Linked DNA regions of Homo sapiens: all the other regions are linked to region 4. The links come from fine-mapping of genetic effects on gene expression. A gene starts in region 4. Each other region holds a variant in brackets. All regions are shown on one strand. Distances are from middle to middle.

Region 1 (8,104 bases), 200 kb before region 4:
GCTTGCAGTAAGCGGAGATGGCGCCACCGGACTCCAGCCTGGGCGACAGAGCGAGACTCCGTTTCAATAAATAAATAAAGACAACTGGTGACTTGTTCTATCTCCTTTTCTGTCTTTTCCAAATTTTCTCTAAGGGGGATATATTTTGCCTTGTTTGTATGTCGACCAATTAAAATATACAAGTACAATAATAAAGCAAATACTGATAATGTCACATGTAATTAGCATGTTGCCATATTTACTTCGTTTCCAGTTTTTGCAATGAGCTGAGATCGTGCCACTGCACTCCAGCCTGGGCGACAAAGCGAGACTCTGTCTCAAGAAAAAAAAAAAAACCAGAGTATCTTGTCACCCCCAAAACTCCTTCATGGTCAAACCCTGCTTCCACTGTTAATCCCTGGCAAGCACTGGTCTGTCTGTCTTGTGTCCCTATAGTTTTGCCTTTCCAGAATGTCACACAACAAAATCGTATCATATGTAGCCTTATGAGTTTGGCTTTTTTTCACTTAGCATAATGCATTTGAGATTCATCCAAGTTGTAGTATATAATAACTTACTCATTTTTATTGCCAAGGGTATTCCATACTATCTACTTACCAACTGCAAGATATTGGTTTGTTTCCAGTTTTTAGCAATTATAAAGTTGCTATATACATTAGTGTACAGGTTTCTTGCAAACATAAGTTTTGTTTCTCTTGGGTGAGAATCACCTAGGAGATTGCTAGGTCAAACACAAAGTACATGTTTAACTTCATGAGAAATTGCTAACCTGTTTCCCCAGAGCAGTTGTATCATTTTGCATTCTCACCAGCAATGTATGACTGTTCCAGTTGCTCCACATTCTTGTCTACAGTTGGTATTATCAGATTTGAGGTTTTGTTCTTTTTTTTTTTTTTGAGACAGTCTCGCTCTGCCGCCCAGGCTGGAGTACAGTGGCACAATCTCGGCTCACTGCAACCTCCACCTCCGGGGTTCATGTCATTCTCCTGCCTCAGCCTCCCAAGTAGCTGGGGCTACAGGCGCCCGCCACCACGCCCAGCTAACTTTTCGTATCTTTAGTAGAGACGGGGTTTCACCGTGTTAGCCAGGATGGTCTCGATCTCCTGACCTTGTGATCCGCCCACCTCGGCCTCCCAAAGTGCTGGGATTACAAGCGTGAGCCACCGCGCCTGGCCTGGGGTTTTGTTCTTTAAAAATAAAAAAATTTTAGCCATTCTAATTGATGTATAGTGGTATCTTATTGACGTTTAATTTGTACTTCTGAGAGGTGACAATGTGCTGGCAGCCCTCGCGGCCCTCGCTCACTCTCGGCACCTCCTTGGCCTTGGCCACCACTCTGGCCACGCTTGAGGAGCTGTCCAGCATGCGGCTGCACTGTGGGAGCCCCTTTCTGGGCTGGCCAAGGCCAGAGCCGGCTCCCTCAGCTTGCAGGGAGGTGTGGAGGGAGAGGTGCGGGCGGGAACCGGGGCTGCCGTGGCGCTTGTGGGCTAGCACAAGTTCCGGGTGGGCGTGGGCTCAGCCGGCCTGCAAGCCCAGGGCAGTGAGGGGCTTATCACCTGGGCCAGCAGCTGCTGTGCTCAATTTCTCGCAGGGCCTTAGCTGCCTCCCAGCCGGGCAGGGCCCAGGAGCTGCAGCCCGCCATGCCTGAGCCTCCCCCCTCTTCCGTGGGCTCCTGTGCCACCCGAGCCTCCCCGACGAGCGCCACCCCCTGCTCCACTGCGCCCAGTCCCATCAACCACCTGAGGGCTGAGGAGTGCAGGTGCAGGGTGCGGGACTGGCAGGCAGCTCCACCTGCGCCCCGGTGCAGGATCCACTGGGTGAAGCCAGCTGGGCTCCTAAGTCTGGTGGGGACTTGGAGAACCTTTATGTCTAGGTAAGGGATTGTAAATACACCAATTGGCACTCTGTATCTAGCTCAAGGTTTGTAAACACACCAATCAGCACCCTGTGTCTAGCTCAGGGTTTGTGAATGCACCAATCGACACTCTGTATCTAGCTACTCTGGTGGGGACTTGGAGAACCTTTGTGTTTAGCTCAGGGATTGTAAACACACCAATCAGCACCCTGTCAAAACGGACCAATCAGCTCTCTGTAAAATGGACCAATGGGCTCTCTGTAAAATGGACCAATCAGCAGGATGTGGGTGGGGCCAGGTAAGAGAATAAAAGCAGGCTGCCAGAGCTAGCAGTGGCAACCCGGTTGGGTCCATTTGTATGTCGTGAGAGGTTTGTTCTTTTAGTCGTTGCGGTAAATATTGTTATTGCTTACTCTTTGGGTCCGCATTGCCTTTGTGAGCTGTAACGCTCACCGTGAAGGTCTGCTGAAGCCAGCAAGACCACGAACCCACTTGGAGGAACCAAAAACTCTAGATGCAGTGCTTTAAAAGCTGTAATACTCGCGGTGGTCTGCAGCTTCACTCCTGAGCCAGCAAGACCACGCAGCCACCAGAAGGAACAAACTCTGAACACATCCGAACATCAGAAGGAACAAACTCTGGACACGCCACCTTTGAGAACTGTAACACTCACCGCAAGGGTCTGCAGCTTCATTCTTGAAGTCAGTGAGACCAAGAACCCACCAATTCTGGACACACTTCTCTAGTGACTAACAATGTTGAGCATCTTTTCATGAGCTTGTTTGCCATTAAAAAATAATCAAGCTGGCCAAGTGCAGTGGCTCACGTCTGTTAATCCCAGCACTTTGGGAGACCCAGGTGGGAGGATTGCTTGAGCCCAGAGTTCAGGACCAGCCTGGGCAACACAGTGAGACCCTATCTCTATTTTGTAAAATAATTAAAAATTTAAAAAATAAAGCTAATGTATTTATTACTTCAGTTTTTTTGTGGTGAGAACATTTAAGATCTACTCTTTTGGCTGGGCACGGTGGCTCATGCCTGTAAGCCCAGCACTTTGGGAGGCCAAGGTAGGCAGATCATCTGAGGTCTGGAGTTCGAGACCAGCTTGGCCAACATGGTGAAACCCTGTCTCTACTAAAAATACAAAAATTAGCCAGGCATGGTGGTGGGTGCTTGTAGTCCCAGCTACGCGGGGGGCTGAGGCAGGAGAATCGCTTGAACCCAGTGTCAGAATTAAAGGAGAGAAACATGAAGGGTGGGTTGACAGTCAACAGGTTTATTTCAAACCTGGGAGGGATTTCTGACCAAGTTAGGTCAGAAGCTGCACAATCTTACAGAGTTTTTAAGGATTCAGGGTGGGAGAGTTTATCAGAGGCTTCGACTGCTTCTGTGTCTCTTCGTTGTGCTTACCTGGGCGGGAGAGTTGTCTGTTCCCGTACATCTTTCTGCAGCTGCAGGCATGTCCCCTGAGTCTGCTTTTAGCTTCCCTATCTTAGTGCACCTGAGGGAAAGAAATGTGCCTATTAAGGCCCACTGTTTTACTGGGGCACATTGTATGAGGGTGAAGTTTGGCAGTTACCCAGTTACCCAAGTAGGGGGAAAGTAGACTTTCCCCCTACTTCCCTCTGTGCCCAAGCTGTCTTATCTGTGTTTTACTGTCTGCTCTTTCTGGCTGCTTGTGGTTAGAAGAGAAGTGATTTCCTTGAAATGTATGAGGCTAGAAAGGGAGCTGGAACTTAAAGTGGTGGTGTTTGTCCAAGATGACAGTGCTCCTGCTCTGTCACCCAGGAGGCAGAGGTTGCAGTGAGTCGAGATCGCACCACTGCACTCCAGCCTGGGTGACAGAGCAAGACCCCGTCTTAGAAAAAAAAAAAAAACTACACTCTTAACAATTTTCAAATATACATTATTTATTAACTATAGTCATCATGCTGTATAACAGATGTCCAGAATATATTCCTCCCAACCAAAAGGGTGACTCGTACCCTTTGACCAATATCTCCCTGTTTCATCTCAACTCCCCTGGCCCTGGCAACCACCATTGTACTGCCTGCTTTTGTGAGTTCAACGTATTTTATTGATCGATTAATTGATTGAGACGGAGTTTCGCTCTTGTTGCCCAGGCTGGAGTGCAATGGTGCGATCTCGGCTCACCACAACCTCCGCCTCCCGGGTTTAGGCGATTCTCCTGCCTCAGCCTCCAGAGTAACTGGGATTACAGGCGCCCACCACTGCGCCCGGCTAATTTTGTATTTTTAGTAGAGATGGGGTTTTGCCATGTTGGCCAGGCTGGTCTCAAATTCCTGATCTCAAGTGATCTGCCCGTCTTGGCCTCCCAATGTGCTGGGATTACAGGCATGAGCCACCGCACCCAGCGCACATTTTCTTTATCCATTCGTCTGGCAATGGACACTTGATTCCATAGTGTGGCTATTGTGAATAGTGCTGCAATGAACATGGGAGTGCAGATATCTCTTCAAAATACTGATTTTCATTTCCTATGTATATATACCCAGAAGTGAGATTGTTGGATCACATGGTAATTCCATTTTTAGTTTTTCCAGGAACCTCCAAACTGTTTGCCATAATGGCTGTACTAATATACATTCCCACCAAGAACCTGGGAGGGTTCTGTTTTCTCCACGTCCTCACCAACACTTATCTTTTGGCCATTTAATGTCTTCTGTTGAGAAATGTCTACTTAGGTCCTTTGCCCATTTTAAAATCGTTTCCTTGCTATTGAGGTCCTTATATATTTTGAATATTAACTCCTTATTGGATGTATGATTTGCAAATGTTTTCTCCCATTCTGTAAACTGCCTTTTCACTGTTTTTTTACTTCTTCTCACATCAGATGGGCAATGTGTTGACATCATAACAAGGTTTGAGGGAGGCACACCTCACACATGAACATGAAAACCCACTCATCATGCTTATGAACTATGAAAAACTCTGTTGTATTTTGTTTGCCATTCTTGTTTTTTTTTTTTTTTTTTTTTTTTTTTTTGAGACAGACTCTCACTCTGTCGCCCAGGCTGGAGAGTAGTGGCGCAACCTCCGCCTCCCAGGTTCAAGTGATTTTCCTGCCTCAGCCTCCTGAGTAGCTGGGACTATAGATGTGCACCACCACAACTGGCCTAGTTTTATATTTTTAGTAGAGACGGAGTTTAGCCATGTTGGCCAG[G/A]CTGATGTCGAACTTCTGAACTCAGGTGATCCACCCGCCTTGGCTTCCCAAAGTGCTTGGATTACAGGTGTGAGCCACCGGGCTCAGCCTGTTTTTTGTCTTCAAGGTGTCAGTTCAAATATTTCGTCCATTTATTTAGCTGTTTTCTTACTGCTGAGTTTTAATAGTTCTTTATATATTTATTCAGGCCAATTGTTAATGCTTTTCAAATGCATGTGTATGTCCATAATGTATATGTGGTGATATATTACTTTTACAATGGTAAACAAACAAAAATAACAACAGCAACAAAAACCCAAACATCATTTCCATGTACAATACAATTTTGGCCTATGGTATCTTTATCATGCAGTGAAGTTGATACCACATTGCTCCTTTGTGTATGTTGTGTTTTCCTGAGGTTTTTCTGCAAATGTCATTCTAGTGTCTTTTGCTTTGAGAACATACAGTGAATAAATGACTATACTATAAGCTCCTTAAGAGTAGAAACTGTCTGTTTCTCATTTTATCTCCAGTGCCTCACACATAATAGACATACAATGTATTTAATGCTAATAAACAACTTCTTAGGCAAAATGTTTGTGAAAGCCACACTGAAGCATTTATCATTTATTGAATTGAAACATTTCATTTCATTTATTCATTTATTGAGACAGGGTCTTGCTCTGTCACCCAGGCTGAAGTTCAGTGGTGTGATCTTGGCTCACTACAGCCATGACCTCCTGGGCCTAGGTGATCCTCCCACCTCAGCCCCATGAGTAACTGGGACTACAGGCATGCACCACCACACCCGCCTAATTGTGTTTATTTTTTGTGGTGGCGGTCTCTCTGGGTTGCCCAGTTTGTCCTCAAAACTCCTGGGCTCAAGCAATCTTCCCATCTCAGCCTCCCAGAGTAATGGGATTACACGCATAAGCCACCACACCTATCCAATAAAATTATTTTTTTAAAAACTGTTATGGTTGGAAAATGCAGCTGAGGCACAATACAAACTTCACGCTTGATAGTCGTAGCAAGCTCAAAGGAGCCAAAGATAACTTTGTCCTAAATGCAAATGTTGATGCCAATGGATACCACCACTTAGATAAATGTAACGAACAATTGCTTTTTTGCACTCTCAAGGTATCAGTGAGATCCAGGGAGAGGCTAATAGAGGGCCGGTATGGTACAGAAAACACAAAACTTATTTATGAGACTCTGAGTGGCTCTGCACTGACCTGGGAATAAGGTTTTAGTTTTGGCTTTGCCACCAGGATGGACATGTCTGTCACTCAACCTGTCTGGGTTTGCTTCTATATTCCTAGAATGGCAGGGGCAGACTAGATTATCTCTAAGATTCTTTCTCACCCTAATGTTCTGTGAGTTTTAATTCTTGCTAGTCCTAATCTTTTGCCAATTTAGTGCACAGGGTGACTTTACTTTTTTTTTTTTTTTTTTTTTTTTTTTTTTTAGCAGATACGGTGTCTCACTATGGTGCCCAGGCTGGTCTTAAACTCCTGGCCTCCAGTGATCCTCCAGGGTAACTTTTCATTAGAAAATAAACCAGCCGGGCACAGTGGCTCATGCCTGTAAGCCCAACACTTTGGGAGGCCAAGGCGGGAAGATTGCTTGAGCCCAGGAGTTTGAGACCAGCCTAAGCAGCATAGTGAGACCCTGTCTCTAAAAACAAAAAAAACAAATAAATAAAGAAAAATTAAATAAAGAAACCCCAGCCTGGCCAACCTGGTGAAACCCTGTCTCTACTAAAAATACAAAAATTAGCTGGGCCTGGTGGTGCATACCTGTAATCTCAGCTCTTCAGGAGGCTGAGGCATGAGAATCGCTTGAACCTGGGAGACAGAGGTTGCAGTGAACCAAGATTGCGCCACTGCACTCCAGCCTGGGTAACAAAGAAAGACCCTGTCTCAAAAAAAAAAACACAAAAAACAAACAACAACAACAACAAAACCTGAGAACTCTAAATCAGCCTTTCTTATTGTATAATCTAGTTGACAGTCATATGGCCTTTAGATGTTAGTTGTTGTTGTTGCTGTTATTATTGTTTTGAGACAGAATCCAGCTCTCTTGCCCAGGCTGGAGTGCAGTGGCATGACCTCAACTTGCTGCAAATTCCACCTCCAAGGTTCGAGCGATTCTTATGCCTCAGCCTCCCGAGTAGCTGGGATTACAGGCACACATCATCAAGCCTGGCTAATTTTTTTTTTTTTTTCATTTTTAGTAGAGATGGGGTTTCACCATATTGACCAGGCTGGTCTCGAACTCCTGACCTCAAGCGATCTGCCCACCTTGGCCTCCCAAAATGCTGGGATTACAGGTGTGAGCCACTGCACCCAGCCATGAAGTTTTGAACAATTATTTACGGCAGCAATTGTCTGCAAACTGCCAGAGCAAATTTTCTAAATCATATTATCCAGAGGCAACTGGGGGCCAACCTTTTTTGCAGGCAACAGCATGAATCTGAGTATAAATACTGGGAAAGAGCCTAGAGATGAACAACAGGCTTCCTGTCCCCACCACCATGTTTATTTGTTTATTTTTTCTATTTTTCTTTTTATTGTAGAGACAGGGTTTTGCTGTTGGCCAGGCTGGTGTTGAACTTCTGGCCTCAAGTGATCCATCCGCCACGGCCTCCCAAAGTGCTGGGAGGCATAAGCCTCAGCACCCAGCCCCCACACCATGTTTTTGAGATGGTGTCTCACTCTGTCACCAAGGCTGGAATGCAGTGGCATGATCATAGCTCACTGCAGCCTCGACCTTCTGGGCTCAAGCGATCCTCCTACTTCAGCCTTCCCAGTAGCTGGGACTATAGGCTTGTGCCACCACACCCTCCTAATTTAAAAACTGCTTTTATAGAGGGGGGTCGCACTATGTTGCCCAGGCTGGTCTCAAATTCCTGGGCTCAAGCAATTCTCCTGCCTCAGCCTCCCAAAGTGCTAGGACTATAGGTGTGAGTCACCACGCCTGGCCTGTACTCTACTTAGTGTGGCTTATAGTACGGGCTGAGTATTATCTGAAATGCTTGGGACCAGAGGTGTTTTGGATTTGGGATTTTTTCAGCATTTGGA
Region 2 (8,083 bases), 92 kb before region 4:
TCCCAAATCTGATATTTCTCCCTTAATTCTGTGCACTCCATTCATTACACTTTGAAGATTCTCAGCACTTGAAAAGCAGGAACTTTATATCTCTCACATGCCTCACACATTGCTACAGGAAATAAAGCAACAAATGACTAGATACTTACTGGAGGCATCTTCTGTCAGGCTCTCTTTATCCTCAGATTTTGACAGTCTTCTTTTGGAAACCATTTTGACCAATGTCTTGTGCACTTAAATTACTTCCTAGAGCAAAATCGGGAAACAGAAGTTACCCTCTAGAAGATAAATTCTGAGAAGTTAAAGCTATTGTTCAAAGAAAACTGCTCTATCCAAAATCAGAGGGGCTCACATCTCCATATTAATGCTACCTAAACCTAGGTGCTAAGCAAATTTCAACTCTTACATCTAGCCAATACTACCTTCCTTTCAAGTCTTAGTTACCTCTTTAGGCAGACTACTTCGCTGTTGCTGAAGGATAAAACCCATCACTCTCCATCTGAGATTCAAGACCCTCCATTATCTATCCCCAACGTACCTGTCCTTTAATTCATGATTTCAATACTATATGTTAGGGACTGTGCTAGGTGCTGGGGTTACAACTGTGAACTAGACAGACATGATCCCTGTCCTCAGGGAATTTACAGTATGGTAACAAATAGCCTTAATGTACTGAACTACAGTTATGTAAGTGCTATAAAAGTACAGGTTCTATGAGGGCTTACTAGGAAATTTAGTCTAGTTGCTAGTAAGGGTGGTAAAGAGAAGCAAGGACCATTTCTTAGGGACAATCTCCTTGAATTTTTTTTTTTTTTTTTTTAGTAGAGACAGGGTTTCACCATGTCGGCTAGGCTGGTCTCAAACTCCTGACCTCAAGTGATCCACCCACCTCGGCCTCCCAAAGTGCTGGGATTACAGGTGTGAGCCGCCCGGCCTAAAGAAGTGATTTTTTTTTTTTTTTTTTTTGAGACGGAGTCTCACTCTGTCACCCAGGCTGGAGTGCAGTGGTGCAGCCTCGGCTCACTGCAAGCTCCACCTCCCGGGTTCACACCATTCTCCTGCCTCAGCTTCCCAAGTAGCTGGGACTACAGGCGCCCGCCACCACGCCCGGCTAATTTTTTGTATTTTTAGTAGAGACGGGGTTTCACCGTGTTACCCAGGATAGTCTTGATCTCATAACCTCATAATCCGCCCGCCTCGGACTCCCAAAGTGCTGGGATTACAGGCGTGAGCCAACCGCGCCCGGCCTGAAGAAGTGATTTTTAGGCAGGGACTTGAGGGCTGAAACAGCAGTTAGCCAGTAGAAGGGGTAGGAGAAGAGGAGTCCAGGCAAATAGATACTCATACTGAAACAAGGAGATGTGGAGTTAGAAATCAGACAGCAGAGGTGGGGGAAGTGCCTGAATCACATGACCTTTTAATCTTGTAAATCAGAACCTTCGTGGTCTCAGTGCCTTTGCACAAAGGTGTTCTTTTCATCTGAAGTGCTCTTATTTGCCTGGAAATTCCTACTCAGATCTAAACATTCAATCGAATGTCATCTTCCTTGAAAAGTGTTCCTCCTATCCCTAAGGGAGTTTGCTACTGCAGCTTCCCTGCTCCACAGGGTATACCTAGGGGCCCTTACCTCACACTAGACTGGGGCTCTTTGAGAGCAGGAACCCAGTCTCACTTACTCAATGTCCCTAATGCCCAGCATAGTTACCGGCATAAGGAAAATTTCTGAGAATATTCAGAGTGAAAAAAGCTCGCAGTGCAGGGGAAATGCTAAAAGCTAACAAGAACTGTTTCAAGTGCTTTATATTTAATAATTCATTTATTTCCCACAAAACTTTTTGAGGTGGGTACCATTATTCTCATCATCACGGGCAGAACTGGGATTCTAACTCGGAGTCTGGCTTCAGCACCTGCGCTCTTCACCACCTATACTTACTCTTGATGATTATAATGACTTCTAATAATGGTTAACATTTACGAGGTACCGGGCCCTGTGCTAAACTTTTTATTTATCGCCGCTTCGGTTAATACGGATAACCATTATCAGCCATCTTGCAGATGGAAAAACTAAGTCTTGTCAGCACGTCCGGCTTCCAGGCACCCGCCTTTAACACGTGCGATACCATCTGGCTTCCAGAAAAGCCCAACAGAAGTGAGATGAGGCCGACTGCCTGGATTAGTTCATCGGGAAGCGGGTGAGGGTAAAAGCCTTTCTCGTTTCCGCATTTTAATGACGCAGAAAGGTACCTGTGGGGATTATCCCATCTCAGGGCAGATGAGGAAGCCAAGGTTCGGGGCGCGGAGCCCCAGAGGAGAACGCCGACCGCGGCCCGGACTTAGAGATTAGGCCGCAGGGGAGCGGGGCCTCGAGAGACTACGACCATTGCTCCACTTACTCACCGAGAAGCCGTCGCCGCCCGTAGTTTTCGACTTTCCCGCCAGGCCCGACGCCGCTCTGACGCCACCGAGGCGCGCCATGACGTGACGCCAACTTCCGCGCCGGAAGTGGAAGGCCGGGCAGCCCAGCTGAAGGCAATAAGCTGGGCTCACCGCTGCAGCAGAGTTCTGTGCTAGCCGGGCATAGGGGCGAGAGAAGGCCCAGAGGCGACGTCAGAGAGAAGCAACTGCGCCCCGGTGAAGAGAAGCTCGCCCATCACCGGCTGGGAGCCAGCTTTCAGTGAAGATGGCAGGGCCAGAACTGTTGCTTGACTCCAACATCTGCCTCTGGGTGGTCCTACCCATCGTTATCACTCTTCGTAGACATGATCCGCCACTACGTGTCCATCCTGCTGGAGAGCGACAAGAAGCTCACCCAGGAACAAGTATCTGACAGGTCAGCGCCCTCCCTTCCCCAGCCTACCTCACACCGCCGTGACCTTGGACAAGAAAGTGCAGGCGTTGTGTCAGTTTGCCTAGGTTCACGTCTCGCCCCCACTGGCAAGGTGACCTTACCCGTTACCTCTGTGTTTCACTTTTGTCCTCTGTGAAATGGGGATAATAACAGTACCTCCCTCATAGACAGGTGGGAATCAAATTAGATGATGTCTGTAAATCCCTTAGCACAGGATCTAGGACGTATTGAGTGTTAAAAACAAAAAACAAAAACGGTGCTGTTAATCCTTTAGGTTAGTCGCCAACCCTCGGTGGGTTTACCTATGAACTATCCCATCCCACCCTTTCGTTGGGAAGAGTGCCTGGTGCTTTATAGCTTTTAGTATTTGTAACATCCAGTCAAGTGAGTGTGATAATCTGCATTCTACCAAATTACTGTTCCAATGGTTAGCTGAGATGCTAAGCACCAAAGCGCTTTGCAATCTGTAACACTGCTGTTAGACATGTAAGGAATTGTAATTATCATTTCCCTTCCTAGGGTGGAGGCAACTTCCTCACATACTTCATTGCAGTATTTATTTATTTATTTAATTTAACTTAATTTAATTTTTGAGACGGAGTTTCGCTCTTGTTGCACTAGATTAAGTATCTATTATTTTTCCGTTTGCATATTTTATCACTTGAACAGAAACTCTGAGCGCAGGGTCATGACCTTGCCTTACTCTATACCCCATAGCATGCAGCAGAGTGCAAGGCACATGGTAGGCCATCAAAAAACTTGTTCACAGCCAGGCGTGGTGGCTCTCACCTGTAATCTCAATACTTTGGGAGGCTGAGGTGGGAGGATCGCTTGAGCCCTGGAGTTCAAGACCAGCCTGGGCAACACAATGAGACCACTGTCTCTACAAAAAAATTTAAAC[A/T]TTAGCCAGGTGCAGTGGTGTGTGCCTGTAGTCCCAGCTACTCGGGAGGCTGAGGTGTGAGGATCACTTGAGCCCGGGAGTTCGAGGCTGAAGTGAGCCATGATCGCACCACTGCGATTGCAGCCTCAATCACTGCAGCCTCGACCTTTTTGGTCCAGCCTGGGTGACAAAGCAAGACCCTGTCTCCAGAAAAACAAACGAAAAAACACTTGTTCAGTCTACGATAATTCAAGACTTTTCCAGGCAGTGTAATCAAAAGAAATTCATCTAGCTCTCCTATATTTACGCTGCTGAATAGTTTTGTAGAAATGGAGTTGAATATCATGACCCTGAGGTATTTTAAGACCCTAAATAAGCAATCTTAAATTATCCTGTATTTTCTAAACACTCAATATCTGTGTTATCTGAAGTTTGCAAATTCCGCAAGAAATTTTTAATTTTGTATTTTTATTTTTGTGAATATCTAAAAATAAGTCCTTGTACTGTTATAAAGATAAAGCTTTGTAATTTGTAACTGAAAGACATCTATTTATTTTTGGCAGAGACAGGGTCTCACTATGTTGCCCAGTTGGTCTCAAATTCCTGGGCTCAAGGGATCCTCCCATCTCAGCCTCCCAAAGTGCTGGGATTATAAGTGTGAGCCACTGTACCAGGCCTAAATGACATTGTCTTAGAATAAAACTTTAAACTCGGTACCTCTCAAACCAGAGTTCCATATTCTTAAGAATCTATGTCTTCTCCTTTCCAAAAAGTCAGTAGTATATTCTTCAAGTTCGAGAACCATTTTTTACACACATTCTATCCCCAAACCTAGTCTAATATATTTTATTCATGTATTTTTCAGCTTTGGTTTAATACCTGTCAGAATTTTTTTTTTTTTTTTTTTGAAACATTGTCTTGCTCTGTTGCCCAGGCTGAAGCTGGGGAATAAGGTCAGTGATGCTTCTGCCATCCCTATGGAGCCACAGAGCCAGTCTGGGAAGCCCCACTTCATAGCTCCTTGGCTGCCAGGGAAAGAACAAGTGGGCTGGACTCTATGAGGTGGAACTGGAGCCCAGGCCCTCTGTTGTGGAATCACTACCCAGAGACTTTATCAGGGTACCTCTTGGCTCCTGGCTTCAGGGTTCATAGTCTAGAAAAATATTGTCCAATAAAATATAATGTAAGTTACATTTACCTTTTAATTGTGGTATGGTTTCCTTCCTCTAAAAGTTTACAATTCAGGGTTTTTTAGTATATTCACAAAGTTGTGCAATCATCGCCACTATCTAACACTGCGGTGACTAATAGGCTGGAATGCAGTAGTCATAAGCCTATCATAAGCGTAAGTAGAGAGTCTTTAGGGGTGCTAACCATCTGGTTGTCTCGATGCAGGGGACGAGGCACCCACAGTCCCTCTCCCATAAGCCTGCCAAGAAGATTGATGTGGCCCGTGTAACCTTTGACCTGTACAAGCTGAACCCACAGGACTTCATTGGCTGCCTGAACATGAAGGCGACTTTTTATGATACGTACTCCCTTTCCTATGATCTGCACTGCTGTGGGGCCAAACGCATCATGAAGTGAGCAAATTGGGGTTTCCTGGGGACAAGGTGGGTACGGGCAATGGGAGAGCCCCTGTCTGTTCACATGGACTCAGCCTTCTCAGCACCTGGGTCTGGCTTTGGTGCTGACAAAGCATAGCCTGTATCAGACAACACGGAGCCTGATGGGCTCTCGAAGTGCTGTGGACAACACTGGCGTGTGCCCAGGGGTGCACATGTTCCTCCTGGTGGAACCTGGATGCATTTTATTTTTATGACTACTTTCCACTCTAGCAACTACATTTTTTCATTGAAATAGGAAGTTTTCCTAAGTAGTCTTCTAGTCAGTTTTTTAAAAATGAACATGTGTTGGCCAGGCATAGTGGCTCACGCCTCTAATCCCAGCACTTTGGGAGGCCAAGGTGGGTGGATCACTTGAGGTCAGGAGTTTGAGACCAGCCTGGCCAACATGGCAAAACCCAATCTCTACAAAAATTAGCTGGACATGGCAGTGCATGCCTGTAATCCCAACTACTCAGGAGCCTGAAGCAGGAGAATCGTTTGAACCCAGGAGGTGGAGGTGACAGTGAGGCGAGATTGTGTCACTGCACTCCAGCCTGGGCAAAACAGCAAGTGTCTTACCAAAAAAAAAAAAAAAAAGTATGTGTCAAAGATTTCATTGAATTCATTAATTAATGAGAGAACTAGCAAGAAGTTACAATCAGTTCAAAGGAGAATTCAAAATCCCACACATATATAGGTCCAGTAAGAATGATGAGATAGGCTGGGTGCAGTAGCTCTCACCTGGAATCCCAGCACTTTGGGAGTTCAAGGCAGGAGGATCTCTTGAGCCCAGGAGCTTGAGACCAGCCTCGGCAATAGTGAGAGAGAGAGAGAGAGACACACACACTTACACACACACACGGCAGGAGGATCTCTTGAGCCCAGGAGTTTGAGACCAGCCTGGGCAACACAGTGAGAGAGAGAGACACATGCGCACACACACACACACACACACCCCTGGGCAACATAGAGAGAGACACACACACACACACATACACACACACACACACACACACACACACACAGTTTGAGACCAGCCTGAGCAACATAGTGAGAGGCATGCACGCTGGGAGCAGTGGTAGTATGTGCCTATAATCCCAGCTAGGTGGGAGGATTGCCTGAGCCCAGGAGTTTGAGGCTGCAGTGAGATATGACCATACCATTGTGTACTCCAGCCTGGGCAACAGCATGAGGCCTTGTCTCTAAAAAGAAGAAAAAAAGAGATAAATGTATACATACAAAATTGGGTTTTTTCTCCCATGGGGATGGGAGGGATGAAATAATCTTCCCTCCATAGGACAGAATTAGTTTGCAAGTCTTATGGACCAGAGTCATTTGTACTATATAATGAACTTTTCTTAAAACTTATTTTGAAAGCCTAACCAAGTGTCTCAGGAAGCATGAGAATATGTGAGGTTAGAAGCTGCATGCCGTTATGGTGATGTTTCCCAAATTCTGCCGCTCCAGTGGCGCCCTGGGGCATCCTTCCCCATTGGGTGGATGTAGCCACTGAGGCTGAAGTGATTGAATCAGTCCAAAGCCGCAAAACTTGCAAGCAGCAGAGCATGGCTGCTAGTCCATCTTTCCGATAGTCTATTCTTCTCCAGTTCCTTCATTCAGTGTTTCCTGAGTGCCCACTGTGTGCCTGGCCCTATGCTGTAACTACAGATTCAGAGATGAACAAAATACCAGATAGAACAAGTTCCCTGAGGGCAGGAATTTTTGTGGCCTTCAGCACCTTGGTGAATGCTGACACATAGTAGTTATTTAAATGATTGTAGAATAAATGAAGACACAGGCGATCTCTATTCACATGGGGCTTCTGAGAAATCCTGCTCAGGATCCCAAGAGTTCTACCAGATCACATGTAGCTAGAACATATCAGACCTTCTTGCTTTCTTAGTTGATCTCCTGCAGACCCAATCTGCAGTTGAGGAAACTGAGGCTGTGTGGGTCTGCTTGCCAGAGACAACAGTGGGTGGCAGGCTTGAGCCTGGTTCTGTGGCTGAGAGTTCCATTTTCCTCCTCGGCTACTTCTTCCAGGATACTACCATCTCATGCCACCTCTTGACCTCAGACTACCTACCACCAGTAGTCTGCATTATTTCAAAATTATGAACAAGAAGTTTCAGACCAGCTGGGGGCAGTGGCTCACACCTGTAATCCTAGCACTTTGGGAGGCCGAGGGAGGTGAATCACCTGAGGTCAGGAGTTCGAGACCAGCCTGGGCAACAAGGTGAAACCCCCGTCTTTACTAAAAATACAAAAATTAGCCGGGCGTGGTGACACACTGCTGTAATCCCAGCTACTCAGGAGGCTGAGGCAGGAGAATCACTGGAAACTGGAATGTGAAGGTTGCAGTGAGCCGAGATCACACCATTGTACTCCAGCCTGGGCGACAGAATAAGACTCTGTCTCAGAAAAAGAAAAGGTCTCAGACCTTAAACTCAGTCCAGTTAGGGGAGGTGGGACACTTCGACCTAAACACAGTCTGGTGACTGGAATCAGTTTAGTGACTTAGTGGTATCACTAGGTTTTTTTTAATTATAGTAAATATGTATAGCATAAAATCTATTGTTTGGACCATTTTAAGTGTACAATTCAGTGCCATTAAGTACGTTCACAATGTTGCCCAGCCATCACCACCATCCATTTCTAGACCTCTTGCATCATCTTAACCAGAAACTCTGTCCCCCTGAAGCACTAAGTCTCCATTCCTCCTCCAGACACTGGTAGCCTCCACTCCAC
Region 3 (8,104 bases), 22 kb before region 4:
ACCTGGGAGGTGGAGGTTGCAGTGAGCCAGGATCATGCCATTGCACTCCAGTCTAGGCAACAGGGTGAGACTCCATCTCAAAAAAAAAAGAAAAGAAAACATATGTCCAGATCAGGTGCGTTGGCTCATGCCTGTAATTCCAGCACTTTAGGAGACCAAGGCAGGTGGATCGAGCCTCCTGTAGTCCCAGCTACTCAGGAGGCTGAGGCAGGAGAATTGCTTGAACATGAGAGCCAGAGGTTGCAGTGAGCTGAGATCGCACTACTGCACTCCAGCCTGGGCTACCGACTGGGCCACAAAGCGAGACTCTGTCTCAAAAAAAAAAAAAAAAAAAGAAAGAAGAAAAAGAAAACATGTCTACACAATTATGTATACATGAATATTCATAGTAGCCACAAGGTGGGAAACAACCCAAATGTCTATCAGCTAACAGATGGATAAATGAAATATGGTATAGCCATACAATGGCGTATTATTCAGCAGTAAAAAGAATAAAGTACTGACCAGGTGCAGTGGCTCACGCCCGTAATCCTTGCACTTTAGGAGGCTGAGGTGGGAGGATTGCTTGAGGCCAGGAGTTCAAGACTGGCCCGGCAACATAGCAAGACCCTGTCTCTACAAAAAATAAAGTTATCTGGGCATGGTGGCGTATGCCTGTAGTCCCAGCTACTCAGGAGCCTGAGGCAGGTGGGTGGTTGCTTGAGCCCAGAAGTTGAAGATTACAGTGAGCCATGACTGTGCCACTGCACTCCAGCCTGGGCAACAGATTGAGACCCTGTCTCTAAAACAGTAAAATAGGTTAGGCACAATGTCTCATGCCTGCATTCCAAGTACTTTGGGAGGGTGAGGCGGGAGGATCACTTGAGCCTGGGAGTTGGAGACCAGTTTAGGCAACATAGTGAGGCCTCACAAGAAAATGAAAAAAAAAATCAGCCAGGCATGGTGGCACATGCCTGTAGTCCCAGCTACCGAGGAGGATGAGGTGGAAGGATTGCTTGAGCCCAGGAGGTCAAGGCTGCAGTGAGCCATCATTGCACCACTGCACTCCAGCCTGGAAGACAGAGCGAGACCCTGTCTCAAAACGATAAATAAATAATAATAAAGTAATTATCACTATTTTACCAGAATTTTTTTTTTTTTTTGAGACAGAATCTTGCTCTGTCACCCAGGCTGGCGTGCAGTGGCACGATCTTGGCTCACTGCAACCTCTGCCTCCCGGGTTCAAGCGATTCTCGTGCCTCAGCCTCCCGAGTAGCTGGGATTATAGGCGTGCACCACTGCATCTGGCTAATTTTTGGATTTTTAGTAGAGACGGGGTTTCACCATGTTGGCCAGGCTGGTCTCGAACTCCTGACCTCAGGTGATTCACCTGACTTGGCCTCCCAAAGTGCTGGGACTACAGGCGTGAGCCACTGCCCCTGGCCCAGAATTTTTTAATGTATCTCCCAAAATCACTTTTTTGTGGGAGGGGAGGGAGCAGGGAAGTTGGATATTTTCAAAGTAAATCACAAGTATGTCATTTCACACATAAGTCGTAGGTATCATAACAGATATGGAATTTTTTACACATAACCCACAAGGCCATTATTTCACCCGATGCAAACATGCTTATACCTTAATATGTCCTAAGACTCAATCTGTGTTCATATTTCCCTAATTGTCTTAAAATGTCTTTTCCACAGTGGATTTATTTGACTGAGGCTCCCAACGAGGCCCCCACGTGGCATTTGGTTGCTATATCTCTTAAATCTCTTATGTAACAGTTTTCCCTCCCTCCCTTTTTTTTCAAGACATTCATCTGTCGAAGAAACCATGTTGTTTGTTGTCTCTGTAGAATTCTGTGAATCTCTGAAAATGTTATCTGAATGGGAAATTAAATCTTTCAATTGTTTTTCACTTTAAGGAAAGATTAAGGGGAATGAATTAGTGATAGATGCATGGAAAATTAAGCAAATGAAAAACCAAGCAGTACTTACTGCAGGAGAAACAATGTCTGGAGAGGGAATTATTATCCTCACAGCACACTTCTTGAATCAGCTTGAATACTTGTTTCACAGTTCTAGTATTGTAAATGCAGAATAATGATACCAAAAAACTACAGAAAAATATGGAAAGTAATAGAAGAACTACATTTTCATATTATCTTCATAGTAGTCAATAGATTAACCCCCAAAACTGAAAATAATTAACATTAGCCGCATAAATCTGATGTGAAAATAGGATAAATACCAGAAGAAATAACCAGAAGTACCAGAAAGACTTGACAATAATTACTTCCAGAAAGTGGGAATTGAGAGTGAAAGGGAATGGGGTAAGGATCTGCTGATTTTAAAGTGGCATCAGATTTCACACACAAAAAAAATAAATAACTCTTGGCCAGGTGTGGTGGCTCACGCCTGTAATCCCAGCACTTTGGGAGGCCAAGGCAGGCAGATCACTTGAGGTCAGGAGTTTGAGACCGGCCTGGCCAACATGGTGAAACCCCATCTCTGCCAAAAATACAAAAATCAGCCAGGCCTGGTGGTGCATTCCTGTAGTCCCAGCTACTCGGGTGGCTGAGGCAGGAAAACGGCTTGAACTCAGGAGGCGGAGGTTACAGTGAGCTGAGATTGTGCCACTGCCCTCCAGCCTGGGTGAAAGTGAGAGACTCTGTCTCAAAAAACAAACAAAAAACCTCTTTAAAAAGATCAGGTTTGTTTAGTTGGTGTTGGTGGAAGCTAAAATCTGAGAATGAGTAGGCTAAGACTCCAGGAGCCCTTCAGGCTGAATTTGGCCAGTTTGGTAAAAGAGTATAACTCCCCGTGCCCTCAGAGTTCAGGACAGTGGGCAGAGCACAGAGAAGGTTCACCAGCCTGCACTTTCTCCCACCTGTTCTCCCTTTTGTTTATTTTCTCATGCCTGCCAGAGCAACCAGCCAGAATGAAAATGCCAACCAACTGTCCTGGGCTTTGTCTAAGCAGGAGATTTCATCATTGCCAGCCCCATCTTCTTTGCCTTTTCTTTCTCACTCTTTCCTTGGGGAGTCACAACAACTTTCAGCTCTGTTGGTTTGAAGTCAACAGAGATCCAAACTGGAGGGCCTATTTTCATGGACTCAATTAACTCCTAACACAGTAGGGGCCGCCTGGAAGGCCTGGGGTTTCCCTCTCCCCCACTTTCCTCTCTCAGGTTCTTCCAGAGGGGCAGGAGGGTGTCATTACTATTAAGAGCACTGGTTCTGGCCAGGCGTGGTGACTCATGCCTGTAATCCTAGCACTTTGGGAGGGCGAGGCAGGCTGATCACTTGAGGCCAAGAGTTTGAGACCAGCCTGGCCAACATGGCGAAACCCTGCCTCTACTAAAAATACAAAAGCAAGATTCCATCTCAAAACAAAGAGCACTAGTTCTAAAGTCAGGCCTGTGGCTTGGCCCCTTAGTTGCTGCATGACCTTTAACAAGTTATTGAACTTCTCTGAGCTTCAGCTTGCCAGCTGTATAATGAAAAACATAAAACCTAGGGTTGTCATGAGGACTTAAAAAGAATAATGGTGTGTAGCATAGTTTTTGGCAGACCAAGTGCTTGGT[G/A]AACAGGAGATATTGACCATCCCTTGTATACTTGGAGTCACCTTCCATTTATCCCCGCCGTCCCAGAGTCTGCAGAAGGATGCTGGGAGCTCCATCTGGAGCTGAGATACTCCCCGTCCACACCTGCGCACCTCGTGTTCCCCGCTTACATTCACCTCCACCCCAGCCAGTCTCCTCTTTCCGCAGGATCAGCTTTCACCTTGGCCTCTAGCCAAAGGGATCCTAATCTCTCTTGCATTTGTTTGGAATCTCAGAATGCCTGCCGGTTGGTGGTTTAGAAACGCGATGGGATTGGGGCCCCTGGTTCCAAAGAGGGCAGCCAGCAAGCAGCCAGATGGCCCTGCATGGACTGGGAGGTCAGGCACTCACACACCTGCCCTTCTCAGGAGAAACTGAGGAAGGGAACCGGGCCAGCTCTGAGCCTGTGGAGGGAATCTCAACATCTCCAAAGGAGGCTCCCAGCGAGTTCACAAGGGGAAGTGAGAGGAAGGATCCAGACTCCTCAGCTTCTGTAGGGGGCCCTAGGACTGCATTCTGGCCAAGACTGCCCACATGGGAACAGACACAGGTCCCCCAAAGGAAGTTAGGATGCTGTCAGGAAGGGAAATGGTTATTGCAAAACCCTCCAAAATGTCAATCAGCTATATGTAGAATCAGGATCCAGTTAACTTCCTACAAGATTGTAACAACAGGCTGGATCTAACAAGATAAACAACAAACAAATGTAGAATCCTACATTAAGAGTCAATAAACCAGTGGTACATGAAGAGATGGGAAGACTTTACTACTAGATCAATTGGGTAACAAAGTAATGTGGCTGCTAGAAACATTAATTCAGTGTGAGGCCGTATGAATGGAGTAGAATCCTGGAAAGGAGAGGTGAAGGTTCAGCTTTACTCCCAACAAGGTTCATTTCCAAGAGTCCTACTTTCAGAGGGGCGTTGTTGAGCTGGTAAGAAGCAAACAGAGAAGAGATTCCACATGGTGAGAACCCAGAATCCTGTCCTGCAAGGAACAGCTGAAAAACTCGGAGTGTTTGTCCTGGAGAAAGAAGACTCTAGAGAAATGAGAGATGCCTTTACAATTCTGAAGTGGCTCCAACAAGGAAAACAGAGCTGGTCAGGTCATGTGTGAAACGGGCAAGGCCTGCACCCTCTCCCAGAGTCAAGCAGCTGAATGCAGGCCCCACCATTTACCAGCCATTAGGGATGGAATATTCTTCAAACTGCAACACGTCAGACACAACTGGGGCCTGAGTATTGCTTTTCTGTGAGAGCTAGAGGTAGGAAGCCATTGGGAGGGAGATGTCAGCTCAGCCCTAGGAAGAATTTTTTCTTTTTCTTTTTTAAGTGAAATTTGATTTTTTATTTGATACTGGGTCTCTTTCTGTCACCCAGGCTGGAGTGCGGTGGTGCGACCTTGGCTCACTGCAACCTCTGGCTCCTGGACTGAAGTGATCCTCCCACATAACCCTCCTGAGTATCTGGGACCCAGGTGCGCACCACCACACTTGGCTAATTTTTTTTTTTTTTTTTTGGTAGAGATGGGGTTTTGCCATGTTGCCCAGGCTGGTCTCGAACTCCTGGGTTCAAGCAGTCCTCCAGCCTTGGCCTCCCAAAGTGCTGGGAATATAGGCATGAGCCATTATACAGGCCAAATTTTCTTCTTCTTCTTCTTCTTCTTTTTTTTTTTTTTTTTTTTTTTTGTCAGTCTCGCTCTACTGCCCAGGCTGGAGTGCAGTGGTCATTGCACTCCAGTGACACAGCTTGTGGTCAATGGACAGAGTGGTCAATGCACTCCAGTGACACTCCAGTGGCCATAGCTTACTGCAATCTTGACCTCTTGGGCTCAAATGATTCTCTGGCCTCAGCCTCTGGAGTAGGTAGGACTACAGGCATGTACCACCACGCCCAGCTAGTTTTTTTGTTTTTTTGTTTGTTTTTTAATTTAAAAAAGTCTCACCATCTTGCCCATGCTGGTCTTGAACTCCTGGGCTCAAAATGATCCTCCTCTCTAGGCCTCCCAAAGTGCTGGGATTACAGGTGTGAGCTACTGCACCCAGCCCTATCTCATTTTTGATAACCACATATATTTCCTGTGTGGCTTTCCCTTAAGGAATTGAGCCTAATAATGGATGTTTAGTATATCAAGAGGTGTTCAAAGAAAGACCAAGAACATTTTGACAGTGTCTACCAGCCCCATATGCAGACCCATAGATTTTACTACCATGCCTCGGCTAGGCAATTATCTGGTAGGTGCACTAGTGTACGTGCACAGTGATGTGTTAAGCAAGGAATGGCCCCTGCTCCATTATCCCTGCGAGCAAAAGGCTAGAAACAACCTATGTCCAATTACAGGGGACAGGATAAAGAACAATAACTAGCTGACCATATGCTGGAATTCTCAACAGTGGATACAAGAAATGATATAGATCTATAGATATTTACATGAAAAATGTGCCAGAATATATTGGAAAGTGAAAAAGACAAATTACAGAAATGTGTACAGTGGCTGGGCACGGTGGCTGACGCCTGTAATCCCAACACTTTGGGGGTCCGAGGCGGGCTGATCACCTGAGGTCAGGAGTTCGAGACCACCCTGGCCAACATGGTGAAACCCTGTCTCCACTAAAAATATAAAAATTAGCCAGGCATGGTTACTAGGGAGGCTGAGGCAGGAGAACCACTTGAACCTGGGAGGCGGAGGTTGCAGTGAGCCGAGATCACGCCACTGCACTCCAGCCTGGGCGACAGAGCAAGACTGTCTCAAAAAAAAAAAAAAAAAGTATACAGTATGATGTCATTTCTATTTAAGATGTACATGTAACTGTACATTGAGAAGAATCTGAAGGATACATACCAAGCTGTAGGTAGGATTTACCTAAAAGGATGTAGGGATATAGAAAGGAAGTGAGCTCCCCGTCCCATGAGGTATGCAAGCAGAGGCTAGCTGCCCCGTTTTCAGGGATGCTGCAGAAGACATTTCCACATCCCTCAGAGATGACCTCGGTTCCACTCTGAGCCCTGACAATCCCTGAGCGAGGGGAAGTCAGGGTTGACAGAAGAGTCCACCCCTAAGGGGAAAGAGTTAAGCAGGGCTGCGCTCCTGTGGGCGGGCTCGCGATCGGCAGCGCCGGGCTCTGTTAGCCGAGTCTGAGCATCTCGGAGGATGCGGCGCGGCGATCGGCTGCAGGGACGCGCGCAAGGTGAACACGGGGGCTGCGGCGCGCAGGTGAGGAGCTGGCCCAGGGAGGGGGCGATGGCGGGACCCCGACGGGGAGCGTGGCCTGCTGCCCCCGTCGCGGGCGCAGGCGACCAGGCCTGCACGGCGCCCACCCCCATCCAGGACACTGCGGGAAGGCGCGGAGCCAGGGAGAGAGGAGACGGAGGAGGAGGAGGAGGAGGAGGAGAGGTAACCCGAGATGGACCAGCTCCGAGGCTGCCCCGCAACGGCCTCGCCCTGCCCCCAGGCCGGCCTCTCCCCAGTCCCTGCGGCAGAGAGATCCGCCACCCCCCACAGCCTCTCCAGCAGAGTGGGAGCCCAGGGCTGGGCAAGCCCCCGCCTTGTCCGCAGGTGCCCACATCTCTTGGGTTGGCAGTGGTAGGCAGATGGCATGTTTATCTTTGGAGGCCCCATTCAGCCGTTTTCTCGGCAAAGCTTTTTGGACCTCCTGTGGAAGATGAGCCTCCGAGGGTTTCACAACCCCGATTGTGTCCACTCAGCTGTGTGACCTTGGGGGAGTTGCTCACCCTCTCTGAACCCCCGTTTCTTCCCCCTGTGAAATGGCTGTTCCCACACCTTGTATTGGGAGGGCGGAGTGACGTGTTGCTAAGCTCAGCGCAGGAGCCTCACTGGGAAAGAACTAAACACAGGAGCACTGTTTTTAGCCAGTACCTGTGTTAGGGGCGTCTCAGCGCACCCCTACTCCCAACCCTGGAGCAAAGCCCTGTCTCTGGGCCCCCAGCACCTAGCCTAGACCAGGAGCAGCCCATGGGGCTCCGTGAATGTTTGAGAAATGAACTAACAAGGCTTTAAGACAGAGTCTAAACTCGAGTTTGGAGGATGGGACTCAAAGGTCTTTGAACCCCTTGAAATTGTTCACAACTTTCGGTGAGCCTGGGTCTTTTCCCCGGGAGAGCACCAGGGGTTTTCAGTGGCTTCTTAAGGTGTCTGTGAGCCACCATGGGTTAACAGCCAGGAAGCTTTGGGGACAGCTGCTCCCCAGAGAGGAAAAGAGCAGGGCCTCTGCCGCCAAACACACCCAGGCTTCAGCTCTCGCACCCTCCATGAAACCTCTCCTGGTGGTGGGGCCCCTTCCTGCCTCCCTGGCCCACTGACAGGCTCTCGAGAACAGGAACTTTTAGGGGATATCCACGTGGGGCCAGGTATATACTGGAGGCTGCAGGTTTGAAATAAGAGGCAGGAGATTATTATAGAATCAGACCAGAGTGACAAGTGCCCAGGAAGATGAGGGAAGGAAGGCGGGAAGAGGAATGTGTAACGCTTGTCAAGCATCAGGTATGAACCTCGCCCATACCTG
Region 4 (8,095 bases):
CTGTGGAAAAGCAGTTCCTCAATAAGTAAAACATGGAATTGCCATAGGACCTGCCAATTCCACTACTGGATATAGACCCAAAAGAATGGAAAACAGGTGTTCAAACGAAAACTTGTAGACAATGTTCATAGCAGCACTATTCACAACAGCCAAAAGGTAGAAACAATGCAGATGTCCATCAACTGATGCATGGTTAAACAAAATGTGGTACAGCCAAATGAGAATATTATTCAGCCATAAAAAGGAATAAGTATTGATATATGCTACGGTATGGGTGAACCTTGAAAACATTATGCTAAGTGAAACTAGCCAGACACAAAAGGCCACATATTTTATGATTCCAATGAAATCAGCAAATCCATAATTTCTGCTTGACTAACACAAATTAGTGATTGCCAAGAGCCGAGGGAAGGGGAGAATAGGGAGTGGCTGTGTAATAGGTATAGGATTTTTTGGGGGGGTAATGAAAATGTTCTGGAACTACATAGTGGTGATGGTTACACAACATTGTAAATATTATTAAATGTCTTTAATGGGAAATTTTTTATGTGTATTTTACCACAAATATATACATATATATATATATATACGCATATATATACGCACATATATATACGCAGACATATATGCACATATATATACACACACATATATATATACACACACACATATATATACACACATATATAAATATTTGATGTCTTATATCCTGTATTTAAAGGGTCTGGCACAGTGCCTGGCATATAGGAGGTGATTTAAAAAAGCAAGCAACGCAGGAGCCATTACAAAGCTGGAAGTGCCTCTGGGGTTGTCTTAGCCAATCCCCTCATTCCTGAATGAGGAAACTCAGGCCCGGCGAAGGAAAAGAGAAAATGACCAATGTTACATAATAACAAAACCTTTATTTCTAGTGGGCATCCCAGTTAAGCCTTTTCCACACTTCTATGAAATAGGCAAACCAGGTATTAATATCCCCATTTTACAGGTGAAGAAACTGTGGCTCTGAGAGGTTAAGAACCGACAACCAGGTCTAACTCTGAGCCTTTGCTGACTCCTCTTCCATCTGACTTTGAAAAGCTGGAGGGCTCAGGGCTCGCCTTTCTGTATCCTTCCCATGCCTTTCTTTACATACTGACTATATAAATGGCTTTCTGTATTACATATATTGACTATATAATGGCTTTCTGTATCCTTCCCATGGCTTTCTTTACATACTGACTATATAATGACAACTCTCAAATTCCTGTTTCCAATTCCTACTCTTTTCTGAATTCCAGATTTGTATGGAGTCTACCTGGATGTCTAATGGACATTTCAGCCCAATACGTTCAAAGAACACCACATCCCACCCCTCCCCTAAACCTTCTCGGTTTCGCATCTCACCATCTTAGAAAACAGCTGCACTACTCACCCAGTTGCTCAGGCCCAAAATCTAGTAAGCATCTTTTATTCTACTGTTTCTCTATACCCATAATGAATCTATCACCAGGTCCTATTGTTCTCTCTGCAAAATATACCCAGACTGTGACCTCTTCATCATGTCCTCCACTAGATACCACACTAGCTTGTGTTGCCTTTGTACCTAGATGATGCACTTGCCTCCCAAACTGGTCTCCCTGCTTCCTCCGCCCTTGCCCCTTACAATCCGTTTGCTACATAGCAGTGTGAGTAATCTTTAAAGGTGTAGAGAAGACAGTATCACTTTTTCTGCTCATAGCCTTCCAAGAGCTTCCCATTACACTCCAAAAAAAATCTAAACTCTTTTCTGTAGCCCTCGAGGCTTAAGCCTTTGCCTTCACCTTCTAGCACTCTCCCCTTGGCTCACTCCACTCCAGCCACTTCTCAAATACACCAAGCTCAGTCCCATCCTCTGCCCAATTCCCTCCCTGTCACATAGCTCGCTTCTTCACTTCCTGTCTCTCTGTTCAAATGCCAAACCTTGAACACCTTGCCTCCCACCGTCCTGCAGTCTACCGTGCTTCACTGTTTGTTCTTCATCTGACATAATATTATTCACTTACTCATTCACTGCTTGTCTTCTCTACTAGAATGTGAGCTCCAGGAAGGGGGCATTTTGCTTGCCTTGTTTACTGCTATACTATAGATGTTCAGTGCTATTTGTTGAATGAATAAGTGCTCCCCAAGAGTTCCTAGCCCTACACCAGCAGAGCAGAGATTTGGCGGGGAGGGGAATATACACCCCTTCCCCCAGCAGCCCCTTACCTGTCTTTGTATTTGGACAAATTCTCTTCCTCCCAGGCAGTGTTTCCACCTCCAAAGTTGTCCCGGATGGTTCTCTCCAGGCCCTGGAAACAGAAAATTAGTAATAGCTAAGTACAGTGCCTGGCACATGCTAGCACTTCACTGTTCTACTGACTAGGAAACTGAGGCACAGAAAGGCAACCTGCCTAGGGCCATACAACTAGTAAGAGACCAAGATGAAACTTAAATCCACGCAGATTTGCATCCCAGAGTTCCCCACTCTAAATCGCTGTGTTCCCCTCTAACGAGGCTGCCGGTGCACCCACCTTGTTAAAGCTGTCAACCAGTCCCCGGCAGGTATGACACGGATGGGGCTGAGGCGGGGGAGAAGACTGGGGAGGTGGAGAGGGCTGGAGCCAGATAGGTCCTGGGAGGTTGAGGAAGAGGCTGAGGCCCCAGAGCATAGCTGGGACTAGGCCCTTCGGGGGCCATGGGGCCATCTTTACCCAGGCTGGGGACCTGCAGATAGAGGGCGTGGAGAGGCTTCACTGAAGGAGTCAGGCCCCACGCGAGAAAGAAAAAGGTCTGTTCTAAGGTGCCGTGGCGCTGGGATCTGCGTTATTACAAGCAAAAGAGGCCAAACTGGGTATTGCAGGGGCTGTGGGGATGGGTGGGGAAAGGCGCATAAGATGCAATTCCAGAAGAGAAATAAGTTATCCTCGCTAGCATGGGGTGGAGAGGAAAGTGGCCTCGCTCCTTGACAAGGGGGCAGAAGTCAGCCTCTTGTCTGAGGGTCTGATAAAGAATATTAGGGGCCGGATCCGCAGAATTAGGGAGAAGAGATCAGATTCCAAGTACTGAAGGAGAGGAGGCCAGAGGGGTTGTCTTGGGGGAGGTGTCCGGAACCCCGGGCTTGGAGGGAGGAGCCCGGATCCGGATATGAAGGGAAGGGATCAGATTCAGGGCCTCGCAGAAGGGCAAAGGCACGGCCCACGAGCCGGCAGAGAAGGATCCAGACCCTCGTAGGCCACGGAGAAGGAAGAAGCGACCGCCCCAGCCCGCGGGCGCCGTGGGCCGTCTCCTCACCGCGTCGCTGCCACAGCCTGCGTAAAACGCACAACCCCCACCCGCGCCGCAGTCCAGGGGGCGGAGCTTGCCGCCCAGCCAATGGCGACGGGCCATGTGCCATTACGTCACCCCACGCCAGCCAACCAGAGGCGGCACCGAGCTGCACCTGTCCGGGCTTTAAAGGGCCGCGGGGCTAGGGAATGACGTTTGCCAGCCCCGCCACTGAAACGGAGACGCGTGTGGGCCACATGGGTAGAAAAACAGCGTCTGCCTTTATTTAAGTCCCGTCCCCCGCCCCAGGTCCCGCGCCTGGTCCCACCCCGCGTCCCGGCGCGGGAGTCCCCGGGGGATGGAAGTAGCTATCCAGGGCTGGCTGAAGGGCCCGGGACACTTGCTCCGCTCTCTCTTGGAGCCGCCCGGAACGCGGGGCGCGAGGCTGCTGCAGGGCCCCCAGGAAGTCTGGCAGTTGGGAGGGCAGTGTGAAGACGGGCACGGTGCGGAAAAGGGCGGGTACGGCGTCCGGGTGGAGCAGCCTGTCGAAGCAGGCCCCCACGTAGCTGCCGGGCGCCCGGCCCTGCAAGAAGTCGGGCAGCACGCAGCTGAGCGAGGCGCGGAAGGCGTCGTGCGGGCCGTGCGCCCCGGGCCCGGACACCCCATCCTGTAGCCACTCGCTGCACAGCGCCACCGCACCGGGAGAGAAGAGCAAGACCACCACGCCGCCCTCCTGCAGGGTCTGGCGCCGCTGCGCGTGAAACCAAGCCACGGGCCCCTGCGCGCTCAGTTCACGACGGCTCCACAGGTCTACGGCCACGCGCAGCGGCAGCTGGCACAGGGCCGACGCCAGGGCGCCCACCAGGCGCTCGAAACCCGAGTCATCGGCTGAGTAGAGGAGCAGAGCCGCGCGGCCCCTGGCGGCCGCTGCCGGAGAAAACAGATGGGGAGGGAAGAGGTGAGCTGGCACAGGCCTGGCTCCCCGGGGGCGGCCCTCCGCCCAGCGCTTGCTCCCACTCACCCCCCGAGCGGACGTCCTGTTTCAAGAGCCTCAGCCACCCTGTTAGGGGAGAGGGGCGGAGGCAGCCAGTGAGCTCGGCCGCCGCTTTCCCTCGGAGAACTCCCACAGCCACTCTGGTCCTCCCCCAGGGGAATGGGGAGCCGGGAAGCGCTCACCTTTCGCGTGATCCTTTTTGAGAAGGAGGATGAGGGAAAGCGCAGCGGCAAAGAGTAGGCAGGCCAGCCACACGAGGGCCCAGCGCTTGTGGATGTCTGGGAGACCCAGAGAAGAAGAGTTAGAAACTTACCCTCCACAGAGAAGAAAAACTGAGACTTAACAGAAATGAATTGGGCCGGGTGCGGTGGCTCATGCCTTTATATAATCCCAGCACTTCGGGAGGCCGAGGCGGGCAGATCACGAGGTCAGGACATCAAGACCATCCTGGCTAACACGGTGAAACCCCGTCTCTACTAAAAATACAAAAAATTAGCCGGGCGTGGTGGCACACGCCTGTAATCCCAGCTACTCGGGAGGCTGAGGCAAGAGAATCGCTTGAACTCGGGAGGCAGAGGTTGCAGTGAGCCGAGATCGCGCCATTGCACTCCAGCCTGGGCGACAGGGTGAGACTCCTCTCAAAACAAAACAAAACAAAACAAAAAACGAAGAAATGATTTGCCCAGAGTCCACAGCACAGTGTCAGAGCCAGTGGATGAATATAGCTCCATCTGTTTAGGGGTCTTTGAATAAGTAATGTCACCCTCTGCCTCAGTTTTCTCCTCTGTAAAGTTGTACCTGTGTCATAGGGTTGGTGTGAGGACTAAATATATTAATACATATAAAGCTTAACACAATGTGTTAATACATACTTAACACAATGCCGAGCATCTTAAGTGCTAAAATGTCAGCTGTTTTTCTCCCCTAAGCTAGGGTTGCTGGGCCCTTGATCTTGCTGTCCTGGGTGTCTGCAACTACCTGGTGTCCCTGCCCTGTCTTTTTTTTTTTTTTTTTACCTCCAATTGATTTGCCTTGAATTGATTCATGACAGCCTCAGAGATCTTTTAAAAATATAAATTTGGGCCAGGTGCGGTGACTCACGACTATAATCCCAGCACTTTGGGAGGCCGACGCGGGCGGATCACGAGGTCAGGAGTTCAAGACCAGCCTGGCCAAGATGGTGAAACCCCATCTCTACTAAAAATACAAAAATTAGCAGGGCATGGTGGCAGGCGCCTATTAATCCCAGCTACCCGGGAGGCTGAGGTAGAGAATTGCTTGAACCCGGGAGGCAGAGGTTGCAGTTAGCCGAGATCGCGCCATTGCACTCCAGCCTGGGCAACAGAGTGAGACTCTGCCTCAAAAATAAATAAAAAAATAAGTATATATATATATATATATATATATATATATATGTGTGTGTGTGTGTGTGAAATATATAAAAATTTGATCGTAGCTCCTGCTGCTCTCAACATAAGATCCAAATCCCCTACATGTCTCCTGCATCTTTATCTCATGACAGAAACCTGCCTGTCCAAGACCCTGTATCTCTACCCCCTTCCCCTAGCTCAGTCTTCAGAGTTTTGCTGGAACCTTCCCCCTGAGCCCCTCACCCCTCACCCCACCCAGGTCAGGTCCACATTGTATGCATTTACAGCACTGAACACTTGGTGGTGCTTCAGTAGCTCCCACTTTAAATGTAAGTGACTGGCTCATGTCTTGCTAGTCTTCTAGGGGTGGGGCGGGGGCAAGGATTTATATTTTTGGTGTTCCTGCGATCCCTGCAAGCTCTCATCATTTTTTGAGTGAATGAAGGAATGACCCTCTGTTTATCTGATCTCAGGGAAGGACAAGGCCATTGCATGTGCTGTGCCCAAGAGTGGTCCCTGTCAAGATCCCCACTCCTGGTACAGAAAGGAAAGGCAGTTCTTACAATACTCACATTTGTCCATGGGGCAGGCCCATAGCGCTCCCAAGTCATCGTCCCATAGCTGTAAGATACAAACAGAACCAAATCCAGGGCACCAGCCAGGTGTTCCAATATTCACCAAGCTCTGGTGGCCTGATCTCCAAATTCCCAGCATCAACTATGCATATCTCCCGGCTAAGGTTCCTGCAGCTGCTCTGCCTTTGTGCTGTGCCCACTGACTAGGGTATGACTTCTTCCATACCAAATCTGGCTTATAGGAAGAAATTCTTCCCGGAAGCTCTCCCTGGAACCCAAAACTTAGCACCTGTAGGTGTGGTTATCTGTTTATGGGTGTCTAGCCAACAGTGTGCTCCTTGGGGATAGGAACTGTGCTTCTTCTACTCTTAACTTTCCCAGGGCTGAACATAAAATAAGCCTAAATAGACAGTAGGTGAGTGCTAGTTTTAGGCCTGTTGCCCCTAGGCATTGAGGTGGGGCCCTTCTTCCACCAGCTCACCTGCAGACACTGGCCTGACTGCAGGTCTTGTAGTAAGTACTCTCCAAGGCGAGCTGCCCTCTGCCAAGCCAAAGGATGGGGGCACTGTTACCTGGAGGTAGCACCCTTAGGGCAGCACCTACCAGGCTACAGCTGGGTAGAATGAGGTAGAGGGGACTGGGAGACTTTGGTGATGCCGCTGAATATGGCCCTGGTCTGAGTCACCCCCCATGTTCCCAGAGACCGGCACAGGGTGGATGGAGTGAAAATTTGAGGCCAGATGTGAGATGCATTTGGAGAGATCTGTGGAGGAGGGTCGCCCAGTCCTAACCGTGGAGGCTTTGCTGGGTAGTGAAGTACAGCCACTGGGTTCCAAGGCACAGAGGGATCTGTTGTCCTGGGGGCCTCGTGTCTCCAACAGTAGCACATCGTCTTTGAGAGGCCCCAGGGAGTCTGGAAGGGGTGAGAGGCCACTCTGACCAAGACCCATCCTTGCTGGGATTGGCCACTTGCCTGCCTCCCATGCCCTGACCTTCACCCCTAGGAGGTGGCCCTGCCCCAGCTGCCCCCAGGCCCAACTCACCAGCCCACAAGCACTCCTGCAGCTGCAGCTTCTCCGAGCTGTTCACCTGCTGGGAAGAGACCATGGTTAGGGCCACTAAGAAAAGCAAAAGCCAAAGGCAGAAAGACCAGAATGGGGCAGGCAACAGAAGGCCTGTTGGGTTGGGAATCTGCACTCAATCTGACCTGAGGCAGATGTGGATTCAAGGCTGGGTGATTAGGAATCACTACATCTTTCTCTGCCCCAGCCTTGTGAGATCATCTGTATAAAGCGTCTTCTGACCCTAAAGCTGTTTTTATGTCTTACGGAGCATGGTTCCCCTCTCATCTAACCTTCTCAAAGAGATTCCTTTCTCACATGACCACCCTGCTAAAAATTGCAACCCCAGTCCCACCTTATCCCTTTCCCATGGTATTTGTATGCAATTTTAAGATACTATATGATTTATTTACAATGTCTGTTGCCTGCCTTTCTCCATTACAATATAAGTTCTATGAGGGTAGAGATGTTAGGGTCTATCACAAGTGCCTAAAACAGTGACTTGTGCTGCTCAAAAAATCTTGAATGAGTGAATTTTTTTTTTTTTTGAGACGGAGTTTCACTCTGTCGCCCAGTCTCACTCTGTCACCCAGGCTGGAGTGCAGTGGCGCCCTCTCAGCTCACTGCAAGCTCAGCCTCCCAGGTTCACGCCATTCTCCTGCCCCAGCCTTCCTAGTAGCTGGGACTACAGGTGCCCACCACCACGACCGGCTAATTTTTTGTATTTTTAGTAGAGATGGGGTTTCACCATGTTAGCCAGGATGGTCTTGATGTCCTGACCTCGTGATCTGCCCGCCTCGGCCTCCCAAAGTGCTGGGATTACAGGCGTGAGCC

Alleles and levels. Alleles are on the strand shown, and positions count from the first base shown. SD is a standard deviation of normalised expression in the study named. Not every link is listed here.
In carriers of allele A in region 2, the expression in subcutaneous fat of the gene that starts at base 3,307 in region 4 tends to be higher than with T alone (moderate effect, 0.62 SD a copy in FUSION).

What was found. PIP is the estimated chance that this variant, and not a neighbour inherited with it, causes the effect.
Region 1: its variant is fine-mapped to the expression of CRELD1 in whole blood (INTERVAL, PIP 0.98).
Region 2: its variant is fine-mapped to the expression of CRELD1 in subcutaneous fat (FUSION, PIP 0.95).
Region 3: its variant is fine-mapped to the expression of CRELD1 in whole blood (TOPMed, PIP above 0.99).

The regions. Positions count from the first base shown.
Region 1 is chr3:10,130,088-10,138,191 of GRCh38, reverse strand. It overlaps LOC124906357 (small nucleolar RNA U13), which reads right to left and starts at 4,807; the gene lies at 4,704-4,807. The variant G/A (reference allele first, on the strand shown) is at 5,040.
Region 2 is chr3:10,020,788-10,028,870 of GRCh38, reverse strand. FANCD2 (FA complementation group D2) reads right to left here and starts at 2,434. Exons shown (of 44, transcript NM_001018115.3): 1 at 2,398-2,434; 2 at 150-246. The coding sequence starts at 213. It also overlaps the pseudogene CIDECP1. RefSeq lists enhancers at 1,701-2,335, 2,336-2,971, 3,607-4,243. The variant A/T (reference allele first, on the strand shown) is at 3,750.
Region 3 is chr3:9,951,013-9,959,116 of GRCh38, reverse strand. It overlaps PRRT3 (proline rich transmembrane protein 3), which reads left to right and starts at 6,709. Exons shown (of 4, transcript NM_207351.5): 1 at 6,709-6,795. It overlaps PRRT3-AS1 (PRRT3 antisense RNA 1), which reads right to left. Exons shown (of 4, transcript NR_046734.1): 4 at 4,330-4,513. RefSeq lists a silencer at 6,671-7,210. The variant G/A (reference allele first, on the strand shown) is at 3,565.
Region 4 is chr3:9,929,046-9,937,140 of GRCh38, reverse strand. CRELD1 (CRELD disulfide isomerase 1) reads right to left here and starts at 3,307. Exons shown (of 11, transcript NM_001077415.3): 1 at 3,221-3,307; 2 at 2,529-2,721; 3 at 2,224-2,306. The coding sequence starts at 2,702. IL17RC (interleukin 17 receptor C) reads right to left here. Exons shown (of 19, transcript NM_153460.4): 13 at 7,244-7,289; 14 at 6,992-7,113; 15 at 6,682-6,741; 16 at 6,198-6,246; 17 at 4,438-4,533; 18 at 4,283-4,321; 19 at 3,520-4,188. The coding sequence ends at 3,548. RefSeq lists an enhancer at 2,896-3,265 and silencers at 3,366-3,695, 4,276-4,335.